Homo sapiens: one gene and its partner. The protein of the gene in region 1 interacts with the protein of each later gene in a biochemical or structural test. Each region holds a gene or a part of one and is shown on either strand. Other genes may lie near its edges.

The links. Proteins that work in one complex are often made in the same cells at the same time.
Region 2: of the proteins of DAB2 (region 1) and PRKCB, one has a biochemical effect on the other in vitro, tested with the Homo sapiens proteins (one study listed by BioGRID).

What each region holds. Positions count from the first base shown.
Region 1 is NC_000005.10:39,374,655-39,380,403, forward strand, and holds part of DAB2 (disabled homolog 2), read right to left. Parts: intron 2,629-5,749; coding exon 1,996-2,628; intron 1,453-1,995; coding exon 1,343-1,452; intron 431-1,342; coding exon 365-430; 3' UTR 360-364; intron 1-359. UniProt on the Homo sapiens protein: Adapter protein that functions as a clathrin-associated sorting protein (CLASP) required for clathrin-mediated endocytosis of selected cargo proteins.
Region 2 is NC_000016.10:24,180,821-24,185,485, reverse strand, and holds part of PRKCB (protein kinase C beta type), read right to left. Parts: coding exon 4,558-4,665; intron 376-4,557; coding exon 295-375; intron 27-294; coding exon 1-26. UniProt on the Homo sapiens protein: Calcium-activated, phospholipid- and diacylglycerol (DAG)-dependent serine/threonine-protein kinase involved in various cellular processes such as regulation of the B-cell receptor (BCR) signalosome, oxidative stress-induced apoptosis, androgen receptor-dependent transcription regulation, insulin signaling and endothelial cells proliferation.

The DNA of each region.
Region 1 (5,749 bases):
TTATTACTAGGTTGTTTTGCAACCACTTCAATATGAAAGTAAAAAGGTTAGAAACCTGTGATGTGTTGTTTTGAGTTTTACTTCCCACACAGAACTGAAAAACCAAGAACATGGAATAAGATAAAAATCCACATCCCCAAGGGTATATTACTATTTTTTGATGTGTTTAGGAATTCTATTCTTAAGTGCCCAGCCTAGTCATTATTGAATGATCTCAGTAGAGATTTTCCTGTCGATTACTCCTAAATTATAGATATTTACCCTCTTCCCAATTCTAAAATTAAAATTTCACTCTTTATTCCATGTCACCCTTTCTCACAAAAACCCCTGAGACAGGCTTATTAGGATCTTCTACTTACAGAATTTAGGCAAAAGGATTTCCAAATGGATCCCTATACATCTCAGAAGATACAGGTTGAGAAGAAGCCACCTAAGAAGATAAAATCATCTAGTCAATAAATACAGTTACAGTCATAAGAAAAAAATCGCAATGAAGACTTCCAAAATTCTTTTAAAAATCGCTTAGGTCATAGGCCAATCAGCCAATCAAACATTATATGGGGCTTACAGTGTTTTGTTTTCATCTGCTTGCAGATGGCAGTGTATATTATTTATGTGAAAATCAAGGTTCAGATGCATTTCATTTGCCTCCCCGAAATGGGAAGTATTATTTTCACAGGCTATAGAAATATTGTTGGAAAATTAAGAACTTAAATTTTTGAAAGGTTTTCAAGACAGTATTTTGGCTCAATTTTCTCCCGAAATGCTTTCATGGGTCAGGTTAAGTGAGATATGAAGGATGTTTTCTATGTGATATTATTTCTCAAATTCAGAAGATAATAGTTCTTGTGCAAATAATCTTTCTCCAGTTTAAATGAATGTTTATACTGTGAAGGTTCTTGGTGACAAATCTTAGCTAAACATGTTTTACCATCAAAAAGCTATTATAGCCAGGTGCGGTGGCTCATGACTGTAATCCCAGCACTGAGGGAGGCCAAGGCAGATGGATCACTTAAGGTCAGGAGTTTGAGACCAGTCTGGCCAACATGGCGAGACCCCATCTCTACAAAAAAATACAAAAATTAGCCAGGTGTGGTGGCACGTGCCTATAGTCCCACCTACTCAGGAGGCTGAGGCAGGAGAATCCTTTGAACTCAGGAAGTGGAGGTTGCAGTGAGCTGAGATTGCACCACTGCACTCCAGCCTGGCCGACAGAGCAAGACTCTGTCTTAAAAAAATAAATAAATAAATAAAAGCTATTATAAAAGCAAGGTTAATTCAGGAGGCTGGAGCTCTATGTGGCATGTACTTTGGAGAAGAGCTTCTAGTAGTTCATACTTACAGAGGCTTGTGATGAACCAAAAGAATCTTTAAAGAAAGGGTTCTCAAATGCATTGTCAGTAGATTTGGTAACTGGCAGGGAAACTTGTCTGGGAGCTGGCTTTGGTGGTTCTAGAAGGTAAAAAATCCAGGCAATCAGTAGACAAGCTTTCCCCAAATATAGGCCAGTCCCCGAGTCAGCTTATTTTTGAAGTTTAGTTCTATACTTTTGAAATTTACATCAGTGGAACAAAAATCAACACCAAATACTAGGTACCCCAATAATTATTATCCTTCTCGGAAGAGAAAGCCATGCATATTTATCTGAAGTGGAAGAGATTCAGAATCCCCTCATTTTAAGCTGATGGGACATGGATGACGCCTTATTACACAGCCCTCCAAGAGTCACCAGTCATCACATTTCAATAGCTCATGGCAGCCCTTTTAAGATTTATCACTAGAGGGCAGCATTGGGTCAGTCCTCAGAAATGACTAAGGTAAATAGTTATCACCAAAAGGTAAATGGTTAAGTTGTCTCCGTAACCCTTGATTACCAACAGAAGCAAGAGCAAAGCTGTTGGCGGGTGGGAGAGGGTTCATTTGGGGAACTCATTTAGGTCCATGTGGCAGTGGAGATAGTTGTTGGAACAGTAGGCAGAGTGGTGAGTGGCTTACCATTGATCTTGTTCAATAGTTGATTAGCATCAAAGTCATCATGGTCTGCATTCTCCTGAGGAATGCCAACCTTGCTGTTGAAATAACTGGCAAAGGCACTCAAAGTCCCAGAAGAAGTCTGCTCTCCCTTCCGCGCGGGCACAGCAGGTGGCTGCCGCAGTTGGAAATCCTTAAACATTTCTTTCACATCCTTGATCTCTTTATCCCCAAGTGGGTCTAAGGCAGTGAAGGCATCACTGGAGATGTCCTTGGGAGGGCCAGCTCTGGGAGGTGGCTGAGGAGGAGTGACCAGGAGAGAGGAGTGCATGGATGGGGGCTGAGTGGACACAGCAGGAGCTGGAAAAATATTGCTCTGAAAAGGATTCCCCAAAGGGCTTGTTGTTGACCAAGCATTGGGTGCCACAGATGCAGAAGGGCCCCAGACAACAGGCACTGGAGGGGGAGTTGAGGCTGCAAAGGGTGAAGGCTGGTTCCAACCTGAAACAGCTGGACTTGTACCAAAAATGACGGGCTGACTAAAACCTGAAGGTTGACCACCCATCATGGCTCCCGGAGCCATTGAAGGGGACTGATTGAAGACCAAAGATGCTGTGTTCCATGGTCCTGCCTGAGGGAGTGTGACAGTTACACCACCTGAAGTAAGAGGAAGAAAAATACTTATCAGGAGTCAAGCTTGAAGAAGATTCTTGAATTTCAGAGAGCACAACTCTCTGGAAAGCCTCTCCACAGCTAACACCTCCATTGAGCCCTGAGGCTGATATGGGAAGAATATGACAGATTAATCACTGTAAAAGTTAGCCAGCTAACACTGTATAGTGAGCATTCAAATGCTGGTTGCATTTTGAGGCCCATGTTCTTCCTACCATGTCTTTTTAACTTTCCTGATTAGAAGGGTAGTACGGTCCATAAGTATCTACTCATCAAAAAAATAAGCCCTTATCATACAGACACTAGTTGTCTGATACATCTCAAACAACTAGAACAGAGCCTGTTAATAGCAGGAACTTATTTAAGTGAATATATTTTTATGCATGAACCATGCTGATTATGATGTAGTTAATTAAGATAATCCATTGGACTCTCTGAGTCACAGATTTGATCTTTTCATTTGGCAACTGGCTCACGTCTGGAGTCTTATGGAAACCAGCAATCACACATGTGCACAAGACCTCAACATGCTTGCATCCTGAAGAAACCATTTCAAAGTTTCTTCACTTTTTATTGCTGCCAAGACTGATACAGCTATATACATAAAGGGAAGATAAAGTTTGGCCAATGCCAAGATAGTTTTAGACGTTTATATATAAAAATGGAAGAAAGGATGTTATCCTAGGAAGACTGTTTCAAATAAAAGTGCTTCCTGCCATGTGCCATTTGCTAAACCTTGCCAGAAGTTAGAACAGAGAATTTAAAAGAGGAGAGAGGACAATGGGAAACAAAAATCTTTCAAGGTAACTAATGGCCTGTGTTGGGGCATCTGATCTTTGTGGTGAATGGCTCCATCTCCTACGACCTTGCTATGTCATCAGGAATTCGTTAAATCGCCAGAATCCAGGCCTCTCCAATGATGGCCTCTGATTCTTGAGAGGCTCGCTCCCTGCATCTTGTTCTAATATACAGGGCACTGTCTTTCCTGCCTCTTTCCAAGTGCATTAATGATTCAGTTAAACTCACCGCTAAGAAGGAAACCTAAATTCAGCCTCATATCTATTAGTGGGTGATGCTTCGCTCTTGAAATCTACTTGCTTTGAGCTTTGGTGCATGGCATTCTTTAGTTATGAAAGTTTTCTTCAGACCTGGGTTAGGGACGTTTATGTTTCCAAGAGGGAATACTTTGAAAATGGTATTTAGGAGTGATGGAGCACAAGATTATATCTTCGAGCTTCTTAGTCTGAGACATTGGTATTACCTGACTCCATTCTCATCATGCATGCTGGCCATCTGGCCATGGGCACACATGGTGTACTCACAGAGAGTGGTGGGTTTCAGAACAGGCCATTTCACTTAATCAGCATGCTTTTTGGAGGTGAGGAAACTGGGTGCAAGAATATTCATTAAAATTGGGAAGGTCATAGTCTGGGATGGTAGAAACTGAAAATCAGGCACACTGGCTCTAAATCCGGCACCCCATTCTCCTGTTCTGCTTCCTTGGCAGCAAGGCATGGGGCAATTTTAATTTTCAAATGCTATGTTAATTCAAATACTTATTTCACGGATACAGAAATTAGACTTCATTTTCACTGAAGAATATACTCCTTTCATAACAAATCAAGAGAAAAGTTATATTCTACAATACAGGCTCTAAAAATGGGTTTAGTTTGAACAAAGTTGTTGCTTGTATTTTAAAACACATTCAATTAAATTGTATTAACAGAAGCCAGATCACTTGCTAATAATTTCCACCAGTTAGCTGTGCAAAAAGGAGGGTAGAATTTTATCATCTTTCATGTTGGACAACTTGTCTTCATTTAGGAAAATATCATATTAGTGAGAATGGTATTTGTAAAAGAGAAAAATATTAGGGCTGGGCGCAGTGGCTTACACCTGTAATCCCAGCACTTTGGGAAGCCAAAGTGGGAGGACCACTTGAGGCCAGGAGTTCAGAACCAACCTGGCCAACGTGGCGAAACCCTGTCTCTACTAACATACAAAAATTAGCTGGGTGTGGTGGCGCATGCCTGTAATCCCAGCTACTAGAGAGGCTGAGGCACTTAAACTTGGGAGGCAGAGGTTGCAGTGAGCTGAGACAGCACCACTGCACTCCAGCCTGGGTGACAGAGTGAGACTCTGTCTCAAAAAAAAAAAAAAAAAAAAAGGAGAGAAAAATATTACATTTGCCAGGAATTCAAGGCTTTCCCAGTATATACTTATACCAGTCTTCATTCCTACCCACCAAATCCCCACATTGTGTTTTAACACATTGAACACATTGAACACATTGACAAAGTAGGGGCAAGGAATAAGGAAAAAGGGGACATGGGTATAGAACATTAATTTTATTACCTTCTGAGGCTAGATTAAAATACAAGCAAGTTGAATCTGAGGGCTCAGCTTTCTACAATACCCTCTCCCCACCCCCCCAGTTCTCCAGGGGAGACAGTCCCCCAGCTGGGTCTAGCGGAAGCCAGACCTACAACCTTCCATGGTTTGGCTGAGGATCCCTGCTAGTGGACAGGGACTATACTGTAGAGCTCAGTTTGAGTCCCATGTCCAAACTTGGAACAATCATCAGTATTCTGCAGTTGTATACCCCAAGCCCTCAACAGGGGCACCTAGCCAAAAAGCTTCACTTCGTCTGAATAAATAAACAGTTATAGGGTCCAGCTGTATTTTCAGGCTGACTTGTTAAATATTGGCTGCAAAAATTCTTAAGGGCATTGATATCAGATAAAAAGCTCTGTGATGTGATCTCGCTGCAGACATTGCATTGCAAGCACTCTGGTCTTCTGTGAGGGAAGGGTACCAACCAGCTCCACTTGGGGGTGCAAGGAAAAGAGCAACGCAGAAAGGGGGAAGCCCCCAAGAGACATGAAGTCTTTAGAGAGAGCCTCTTGATGGGGTAAATGCGAGCAGAGACCTGGGACAAGCTGGCTTTTCATACCCTCACGGATTTCTGCCACTCAGCAGTTGAGTAACAGTCCTCCTCTGGCCACCCTATTCTAGATATGATTAAACAGATTTCTTGTAAAAGAACCAAACTATTTTCCTTTGTAGGAAAACAACAGAGACAGAGAGGAAAACAAAACAAGGATCC
Region 2 (4,665 bases), on another chromosome or scaffold:
TCTTCATCCTCCCCTTCAAAGGGTGCCTGTATGACAGGGGAGGGTGGGAGGAGAAGAATCCCTGCTTGAACCCTCCCCCTAGCTCCCCTCAACTGGCAGACCCTCCTCCCTGGGGCCCACAGTGAAGCCACACACCCAGGCTTTCAAATGACCACAGACTTGTATGACCCCAAGGCCGGGAAAGTCATAGAGGTTCCAATTTATGAGCTGTTACCAAACATGCATTCTCCTAAAGAAACCATGTGGATGGGGGTAGGGAGGACTTCTCTTATCGATCACTTAAAATTCAATTACCTGCCCAGCCAACATTTCATACAGCAGGACTCCAAATGCCCACCAATCCACGGACTTCCCATAGGGCTGATAAGCAATTATCTAGAAAAGAGAAGGCACCCTATCAGGGAGGTTTGCAGTTCATGTTTCTTCTGGAGACAGATTTCACTCTTCTTTTACAAGAAGGCCAGTGCCCACCTGAACTGTTTCTTTATATTAGCTATTCAGGGAATGACAGACATGCTTTGCAGAGGCACCTGCAGCTGGGCAAACACCTGTGGCTGTCACATTGCCTTTTCGAAGCACTAAGTAAGGTGTATTGTTATTATTATTTTCAAAACAGTGAGCATGGAATTTTTAAAAGGAAAAACTGTCTTTACTCCTCTGTAAAAGTTACAACATTTACACAATAATGTAAATATACTTAACACTACTAAATTGTATACTTAGAACTGGTTAAAATAGTAAATTTTACGTTACATGTTTTTAAAACATAATTAAACATAAAAACGTTTAAGAGATAACAACATTTGTCACTATTTTAATATTTCTTTATAAAAGATAGCTCAGCTGAGATAATAACATGAAAATCACCCATAATCCTTTATTAAGAGAAAAATTATGACTAATATTTGGTCTACTTCATTCCATACTCTTTTCTCTGAATACATATTAAACTCTGTGTGTATGTGTGTGCTTTACATAAACACTTTAGTATTTGGACGATTTTTTTTCTTTTTTTCTTTTCTTTTTTTTTTGAGATAGTGTCTCTTTTTGTCACCCAGGCTGGAGTGCAGTGGTGAGATCATAGCTCACAGCTCACAGCCTTGGCCTCCTGGGCTCAAGCAATCCTCGCACCTCAGCCTCCTGTGTAGTTGGGACTACAGGTGCTCACCACCATGCTAATTATTTAATTTTTTGTAGGGATGGGGTCTCTCTATATTGCCCAGACTGATCTCAAACTCAAGCAAAGCTCCCATCTTGGCCTCCCAAAGCACTGGGATTATGGGCAATAGATCTTTAATAAAGCCAGTTATTCACTTAAGTTTTCCTTGCTAATTTAATATTTGTATATGAACATAATCAATTTTTATCTGTGCATAGCATTCCGTTGAATGGATATACCAAAATCTATCTTATAAATTTCCAGTTGATTAGGTTTCTTCCAATGCTGTAACATATATTCTTGTAATTAGACATTTGGACATCTGTCCAAGTATTTCCTTAAGATAAACTCCTAGATGTAGAATTGGTGTATCATATGGTATATATGGTTGTGAAGTTTTTAATTCATATTCCCAAACTGCAAGAACATGGAAAAGTCTAGAAGAGCTATGTGATTGTCCATCTTTCAGTATGCAGGGATGTAAAACTAACCATGTCAGAGGTTAAGAGGTAATACAGCAAAGGCTAAAGGCTGAGGTCTGAGGGTTAGGCAGTCTGACTTTGAATCCTGACTGCTGTCTACCGGTTGGCTGTCTGACCACAGGAGAAGTTACTTAACTTCTATAATCTCTATATCATGAAGTTATGTGAGGATGAATGAGATACTCGGTGGCTTTCACATATTATGCCCTCAAAATGTTAACTAATCCTAGAATGTTTTATAATTCAGTTATTGCTTGTTTAACTCAAAAAGGGTATTTGAGCAAACTTGGCTATAAAGTGAATGTTTGTTTCTTGATCTCTATCTCCCACTTTGATTTCTATTCCAAAATCAGAAATGCAGAGATGTTGATTACAGGATACAAAATTTCAGTTAAGTAGCAGGAATAAATTCAAGAGACTTATCGTGTAACACAGTAACCATAGTTAATAACAATCTATTGTATTCTTGAAAATTGCTAAGAGGGATTTTTAAGTGTTTTTACCATAAAAAAATAAGTATGTGAGACAATAAATATGTTAATTAACTCAACTTAGCCATTCCACAATGTATGCATATTTCAGAACAACATGTTGCACATGATAAATGTATACAATTTTACTGGTCAATTATGAATGAATGAAATGCATTCTGAGAAGTAACCCTCAAGACAAGGAAGGGAAAGCATTCCAGGAGAACACTTCTCATTGAACGTGTTTTCCACTTTGGGAGGCCGAGGCGGGCGGATCACGAGGTCAGGAGATCGCGACCATCCTGGCTAACACGGTGAAACCCCGTCTCTACTAAAAAAATACAAAAAAAATTAGCTGGGCGTGGTGATGGGCACCTGTAGTCCCAGCTACTCGGGAGGCTGAGGCAGGAGAATGGCATGAATCCAGGAGGCAGAGCTTGCAGTGAGTAGACAGAGTGAGACCCTGTCTCAAACACACACACACACACACACACACACACAAGAAACAATGTGGGATGCCCAAGCATCATCCCATTAGAATCTCTGCAGGTGGAGGCCCAGGATCTGTGGTTCTCAGAAGTTCCTCGCTGGTCGTGATTCAGGCAAGCACAAGAAACCCTCAACTGTGTGGCTGGTGAAGTTGCCTCCCCTCCAGCCCACAGATGGGAGGGATAAGCAGCAGGTCAGGCTTTGTCATGAGCTAACCACATCACCTTCGGCAACTGCTGTCACATCCCAGGCTCTAGTTTCCTTTGTAAAAGGATTAACTTGTTGGCTTGTCATGAGGATCAAATAAGACTTGAAGTACTTTAAAAGTGTGGAAACACTTTCTTTCTTTCTTTCTTTCTTTTTTTGAGACAGAGTCTCGCTCAGTCGCCCAGGGTGGGGTGCAGTGGCATGATCACTGCTTACTGCAGCCTCTACCTGCTGGGCTCAAGTGATCCTCCCACCTTAGCCTCCTGAGTAGTCAGGACAGCAGGGGTGACCTAGTGCACCTGGCGAATTTTTAATTTTTTTTGTAGAGATTAGGGTCTCACTATGTTGTCCAGTCTGGTCTCAAACTTCTACCCTCAAGCGATCTTCTTGCCTCAGGCTCCCAAAGTGCTGAGATTACAGGAGTGAGCCACCATGCCCCAGCTGCATCCTACATTGTAAAAGCTCCCTCACGACTCTAAACTGCAGTTAGAGTTGAGAACCAGAGATTATGGAACCCCTGGCCTATCAGGAAGTTGTGTTATGGATTGTGTCCTATCTAATTAATTAACAAAATGATAATAGACCAAAGCATATCACATAGGGAAAACTTCACTGGGTCCGAGTAAAGCCTTATTATTTTTAAAGAATTACTTTATTACTCAAGTAATACCCAAATACATTTACCTTGTAAAAAATGTCAGCAGTATACAGAAATAGCTAAATTTCTCTTTACAATTCCCTTATCCTCAGAGGTAACCAGTGTTATAAAATCAGTTTGAAATCTTCCAGATTTTTGTATGCTTTTACTCATTGAAAACAGAACAGTGTTCTGTGTATTTCTGTTTCATCCATAAATAGTATCATAGTGTTATTTGTCATTCTTCTTCTTTTTTTTTTTTTTTTTTTTGAGACAGGGTCTTACTGTGTCACCCAGGCAGGCTGGAGTGCAGTGGCATAATCACGGCTCACTGCAGCCTGGACCTCCTGGGGCTCAGGTGATTCTCTTACCTCAGCCTCCCAAGTAGCTGGGACTACAGGCATGTGCCACCACACCCGGCTAATTTTTGTATTTTTTGTAGAGACGAGGTCTCGCCATGTTGGCCAGGCTGGTCTGGAACTCCTGGGCTCAAGTGATCCACCTGCCTCTGCCTCCCAAAGTGCTGGGATTACAGGCGCGAGCTGCCACACCTGGCCTTGTATTTGTCATTCTGTACCTTGATTTTTTTCTCTAACAATGTGTCTTGAAGATCTTTTCACATCTACATATATATCTAACTCACTCTTCTGAATTGGTGCCTGGTAGTATTTCATGCTATAAATAAATCACGGGCTATTGTCCATTTTCCTGCTGAGGGACATATACAGGACACAGATCCCATGTCATATGCCAGCCCAGGGGATATGCTCTTTTTCTCTCAACAAACATTTCAATGTCATAATTAGGCGGTATCACATGGCCGTGAGCCACAACAGTTTGACGAAGAATTTTACTGATGTGTGTTGGATGGTTCTTTTGGGTTTTATTTAAATTTTCTCCCAAACCTTGATGTATTTTGGGCTTGGGCTTCTGGATGTGTGCTAAATTAATTTGCATGTGTGATCTCAAAGGGAGGATTTAGAGTATAGAATAAGAATCTGTCCGAGGTTCCCTTGCAAGGTACCACCCTCAACCCTTCCCAGCTCTCACACAGCCATCTGGGGAGCAGAGGGTACATCACCGCAATGTGAACGTGTGCCCAGCAGCTCTCACCTCGGGGGCGATGTAGTCTGGAGTGCCACAGAATGTCTTGGTTGTCACCCCATCCCAGATGTTTTCCTTACACATGCCAAAATCGGCAATCTTGATGTGTCCCTCAGA